Regions from separate parts of the Homo sapiens genome. Here region 1 is linked to region 2. The links come from fine-mapping of genetic effects on gene expression. A gene starts in region 2. The other region holds a variant in brackets. All regions are shown on one strand. Distances are between the middles of the regions.

What was found. PIP is the estimated chance that this variant, and not a neighbour inherited with it, causes the effect.
Region 1: its variant is the best candidate, but not a certain one, in a credible set for the expression of RAB37 in whole blood (TOPMed, PIP 0.57).

The regions. Positions count from the first base shown.
Region 1 is chr17:74,765,585-74,768,478 of GRCh38, forward strand. NHERF1 (NHERF family PDZ scaffold protein 1) reads left to right here. Exons shown (of 6, transcript NM_004252.5): 4 at 1,352-1,392; 5 at 2,563-2,652; 6 at 2,884-2,894. Among named protein-coding and RNA genes, the nearest start is that of NAT9, 9.3 kb to the right of the region's middle. The variant A/T (reference allele first, on the strand shown) is at 1,178.
Region 2 is chr17:74,736,000-74,738,893 of GRCh38, forward strand. It overlaps RAB37 (RAB37, member RAS oncogene family), which reads left to right and starts at 1,257. Exons shown (of 9, transcript NM_001006638.3): 1 at 1,257-1,366. The coding sequence starts at 1,274. It overlaps LOC124904057 (a long non-coding RNA gene), which reads right to left and starts at 1,340. Exons shown (of 3, transcript XR_007065905.1): 1 at 1,259-1,340. RefSeq lists enhancers at 443-502, 889-1,612, 1,883-1,972, 2,337-2,894 and silencers at 743-912, 963-1,012, 1,213-1,412.

The DNA of each region.
Region 1 (2,894 bases), 30 kb after region 2:
TCTGTCACCCAGGCTAGAGTGCAATGGCACAATCTTGGCTCACTGCAACCTCCACCTCCTGGGTTCAAGCAATTCTCCTGCCTCAGCCTCCTGAGTAGCTGGGATTACAGGCGCCTGCCACCATGCCCGGCTAATTTTTGTATTTTTAGTAGGGATAGGGTTTCGCCATGTTGGCCAGGCTGGTCTTGAACTCCTGACCTCAGGTGATCCGCCTGCCACAGTCTCCCAAAGTGCTGGGGTCCCAGTCATGAGCCACCGAGCCCAGACTATTTTCTCTTTCAGTTGAGGCAGGTACTAACTATAGTCTGGGGTGTGGTTCCAATTTTGGTGTCATCATCATCACCTGGGAAGCGTTTGGAAAATGTTGATTCTTAGGCCTGCCCACTAAACCAGAATCTGTGCTGCCAAGGTCCAGGAATCTGTACTTTAACAAGCTTCCCACGTAGGAGTTCCCAGGTAGGAATTCCCAGGTAGGAATTAGGCAGCCATCCTCGAATTTCATCCCCATCTGAGACAATACATTTTTTAAACACCTTGTGACCCATCAGTGCCTCATAAGATCAATTTAGTAGATAGAGACCAGCAGGTTTTTTGGTTTGTTTTTTTTGTTTTGTTTTGTTTTGTTTTGTTTTGCCAGAGTCTTGCTGTGTTGCCCAGGCTGGAGTGTAGTGGCGTGATCTCGGCTCACTGCAACCTCCACCTTCTGGGTTCAAACAATTTTCCCACCTCAGCCTCCCAAGTAGCTAGGATTACAGGCGTGTGCCACCATGCCCAGCTAATTTTCTTTTTGTCTTTTTTAGTAGAGACGGGGTTTCACCATGTTGGCCAGGCTGGTCTCAAACTCCTAACCTCAAGTGATCCAGGTGCCTCGGCCTCCCAAAGTGCTGGGATTACTGGTGTGAGCCACTATGCCTGGCCCAGACATTTTTTTGTTTTTTTTAATGAAATGAAATTAAAAATATCAAAGAACACTGTAGTAAGGGTGTTGCTTTGTGAAACTTTTATCACACAAAATCTTTGTGTGTGCTGAGTCATCAAAATGGCAAACGTAGGCCAGACATTTGCTCACACCTGTAATCCCAACACTTTGGGAGGCCAAGGTGGAAGGATTGCTTGGGGCTAGGAGTTTGAGACCATCCTGCATGACATGGCAAGGCCCCATCTCTATAAAAAAAAA[A/T]TTTTTTTTAAATAAATAAGGCAAATGTATTCATGGTGGGTGGTAGTCAAAAAAGTTTGAGATGTTGACCCAGGGAACAAGATCTAATAATCTGCCCAAACCCAACTCCTACCTCCTCTCCACGCTCTATTCCATCCCCGTTCTGGACTCACCTCTGCTCTGTCCTTTGCCTAGGTCCCCTGCCTGTGCCCTTCACCAATGGGGAGATACAGAAGGTAAGGGCGGGTCCCCTGTCTCTTTGGATTTCAATCCTTGGGGTGCATGAGACAGATCAGAAGGTGCTGTGGTTGGTAGGATAGCCATCTGACTAAGGCCAAAACCCCAGGGTCCCCAGTTCCAGCTCCTTCTTCAGCTCCAAGCTATAGAACTGCCAGAACCCTCTTGGCCTCTGCCTGGGGCCAAAGCTGTCAGGAGGGAGCGGGCTGGCTGGGCCCCTCTGCAGCCCGCCATCCTGGGTGACAAGCCCCCGCCTCCAACTCCCCACCATACAGAAGGGGCCATTCTTCCCCCCAAGAACAGAGCTTCAGTGTCTGGCCACGGGCAGCCGGGCCCCTGCTACTTCTAGTCTGGGTTGGAAGAACAAAGCCCCTCCTCCCCCCTTCCCTGGGCAGAAGGGAAAGGGGGTGAGGCCCGGGGAAGAGATGGTGGGGCTGGGCGCCAGCTGAAGCCATGGAGGAACCCAGGAAGGGGCTGGGTGCCAAGCTGACGCCCCAGCCAAAGCCTTCGCTCTGGGACAGGCCGACTCAGTCAGGCCACAGAGCAGGAACTCTGCAGGGTCTGCTTAAAGGTTCCCCTTCCCTAGGAGCTCCTGCCAGGGTACTTGGCAAGGGGGAGGGCCCTTGGACCCAGCCCTCAACCTTCTTTCACCTCATCTTTGGATCTAGAACTTTCCATCCACCTTCTTCTTTCAAGGCCCTCCTTTGCTGCTTCAGGGTTAGGGTTTCAGGATTCCTGGGGTCAAATCCTGGCAAACAGTCAGGTGGACCACATGAGATTCAGGGAGCACCACATGGGCTCCCCATGCCCCCATGTGTCCCCACATTCCAAGAAGCCCCTCCCTGGTCACTGGCCCAAAAGGCAAGCCAGTACCTAAAAGCCACATTGGAGTGGCCCAGGGAGAGGGAGCGGTTCAGCTAATCCCATGATGGTCTGTTCCCATCCCATCCCTCCAGCCTGAGCAGTAGAACCAGCCTGCCCTCTGATCCCCAAAGGAATGTAAAAAGGAGCCCCAGCAGGCTCAGGAGGTGGGAACCAGGGGTGGGTGGCCAGGGCATCAGTGCTACCTCTTCTCAGTCTGAGGCCCCTACTTCCCCAGGAGCTCCCTCCCTCCTCAGGACCCCCTCACCCCATCCTCTGACAACCCACAACCCTCTCCTCTCTGCCAGGAGAACAGTCGTGAAGCCCTGGCAGAGGCAGCCTTGGAGAGCCCCAGGCCAGCCCTGGTGAGATCCGCCTCCAGTGACACCAGCGAGGAGGTAGGCCAGCCATGCGGGGGGTGGCAACTGGGTTACAGGAAGCCGATTCCCAGGCCCCACTTGTTCCTGGCACACCAGCCTGCCTTTGAGGTCACATGCTGAGCCGCATTCTGTTCTTGTGACCTGGCTTCCCTGGGCACGGCCCCAACGGAGCCACCTCACCAAGGCTGAGGACCAGGGAGCCTAATGAGGGACTGACTCCCAACTTCCTGCCCCCACTTCTCTTTACAGCTGAATTCCCA
Region 2 (2,894 bases):
ATTTGAGACCAGCTTGGCCAACATGGCAAAACCCCGTCTCTACTAAAAATACAAAAAGAAAAAATAGCCGGGCCTGATGTCGCGCACCTGTAATCCCAGCTACTCCGGGAGACTGAGGCGGGAGTATAGCTTGAACCCGGGAAGCAAAGGTTGCAGTGAGGCGAGATCGCACCACTGCACTCCAGGCTGGGCGACAGAGTGAGACTCTGTCTGAAAAAAAAAAAAAGTGCAGGTACCCCTCTCCAGCTCTCCCCTCCCTACACATCCCTCAAACCGTCCCGCTGTAATGCACCCGCCCTGTTCCTTGGTAACTTGAAGCTGCTTATAGAATGTGGAGATGGGGGTAATTGAAAGGTCGGCCCAGGCCACAGAGCCCCTGAGCTCTGCTACCGGCAACCCCAGCTGCACTCCCCACTCTCTGTCACCAGGAGCTGCCGGGTGCCTGGGATATCCTGGCAGCTCTGCTCAAAATGATCTACGACTTCATGAATTTATTTGGCTCCTCCTCGGGGCCAGGGTGAGTGTCATGGGTTAATAAGGCCGGCCCCGCCTTCAGGAGCGGTCCACTGGGAGATGTGTGCTGCGCAGCCCTCTTGCGAAAGCTCTCCCCTGGTGGGACATTCTGGGCACAACCAACAGGCCGGGGGAAATGAGAGGTGATCCATACTAAAGGGTCAAAGTCCCCGCACCAGGCAGAGGCCCCAAAACACCGCAGCGTACATGTGCTGCAAGGCGAGTACGGGTTGGTAAACAAAACTATATTCAGATGAGCTCGGGCCGGGTGACTTAACAGATGAGGAAGTGTCTCGGGGCCATCGGCGGAGGCGCAGCCCAGGGGTCCCCAGCTCCCCGCCTCGCCACCTGGGGACAGCCCACGGCCCGGGGCTCGGGCGCCGCCTGCTGTCGCGGTGCGCAGCGACTACGGGAACTCTTCCGCAGCAGACGGGGTCCCCGCGGCCCGCTCCCCCAGGGGCAAGCAAGCGACCACAGGGGACCGGTCCCGGGGCTGGATGTGGCTCATGTCCGAAGCGCACGGAGCCGAGCCGGTGTTGCTCAGGGAGGCTGCCCGCCCCTTCACGCAGACCCTGCGGCTCTGCGTGCCCTCAGGGAACAGCAAGGTCCGAGCCGGTGTCGTCGAGGGGGCGACGGGACGGAGGGAGGAGCCTGAGGGGTCCCGGTCGAGGGAGGGGAGGAGTGGGCGGGGCGGGGGTGGGGCCGTTCCTGCGCTCTCCTTCGCCTGCGGGCCGGCACTGCTCACCTCTCGTCCAGGGACATGACGGGCACGCCAGGCGCCGTTGCCACCCGGGATGGCGAGGCCCCCGAGCGCTCCCCGCCCTGCAGTCCGAGCTACGACCTCACGGGCAAGGTGGGTGGGCCTCTTCCGTGAGACCCCCGCCCTCCTCGGCGCTAGCCCCTTCCTGGCTGCGTCTGGGTTGGACTCAGCCCTTCCCCCAGGCAGCTGCGTCTCCCAGAGGAGGGAGGGAGAGAGGGTCAGGACACAGCCTCTGGGGCCGTCCCAAGCTCTAGGTGTCTCTGCTGGCTTGGTGGGGGCGGGTCGCGGAAGATCGCAAAAACTGAGTGATCCCCCCGCCGGCCCCAACTCAGTTCTCTTCTGCCACACTCTGGCAAATATGAGCCCCCGGGAGCCCATGCTTCTTGGTGAGGGTTAAGCGCGCAACTCTCGGGGCTCAGGCTGGGAAGGGCTGGGAGATGGGGACCGAACGGAGACTCGGAGAGGACGTCCCCTGCTGGCAGAGGAACTGGCGTTAATGCCATTTTCCGAGCTAAGCTCTTAGTTGAGATCTGACATCCAGGTTTAAGGCCTGATGTCCCCCAGCTGCTCCCCTCCCATTCCACCCGCTGGAGGCACTGCCTCCCACCTTCCTCCCTGCAGTCGGAAGCCGCTCCTCCCAGAAGGATGTTGCCAGCCGGCCTGCAGGTCACTTGGGAATTTTTCGAACCTGAGAAAGATTTCAGTGGTTGGTCTTTCGCATCCCGCACTTGAGAGAGCTCCAGGGCTGCTCTCTGGGGCTTGCTCCCTCTACAGGGGTGTCCTGTATGGAAACAGGTAGGGACAGCAGTGGACTGGTCTGTCGCCTTCCATCTGTGTCCTTGGAGTGAGCGGGTACCAGAAACTGAAAGAACTGCTGAGGGAGCCTAGAGCTTCCACTCTTCCTCTGCAGGGTTGGGGATGGAGTGAGGGCTGTCCTGGATTCCGCTGCATGGCCTTGAAGGAGACCTGCCTCTCTCTGGGCCTCGGTTTCCTCCCCGACACCAGGGCTCACCCTTGCTGGGAGCCTCAGCCTCCACCCCAGTGTTTCGGGGGAAGCCACCCTGCAAGTCATCCGCCCAGAGCCGTTGAGATAGGCGTCCTGTGTGGGCTTGTGGCAGGAAATGGGCCCCTGCACCCTCGGAGAGGAGGAGCTGCTGTTGGCCAGGCCCCAGGCTGAGGGGGACTGCCTGACCTTGTTGCCCTGCAAACCAGCTGGGTTGTTTGCCTAGGAGGTGGCCAGGCTAGGCAGCTGTTTGTGTTTGGTGGAATCACCGAGCTGGGTGGGTAGCTGGCATCGTTTGCTCAAGGCAGCTGTGATCTGTAAAGTACACAAAGACTGGCCCTCCCTCCCTCCTTCCTGCTCCAGGGCTGGGACCCAGGAGCCAGGGAGGAGTGCAGGCTCCAGAAAGCTCCTATCCCCCACCCCTTCATCTGTTCCCTGGCCAAGCGGCATTGGCCGGAGAGTTGGTCCCCAGCCTCCCCGGGCCTGCCCCAGGGGAGTGAGTCCAGGACCCTCTGAGAAAGCCTGGCAGGAGCTCCTTGGACCAGACTAGGGGTGATGTGGCCCACAGGCAGACAGTTCCCACCCTGGGCCACTCTTCCCTGGGTCTTAGGTGATTCA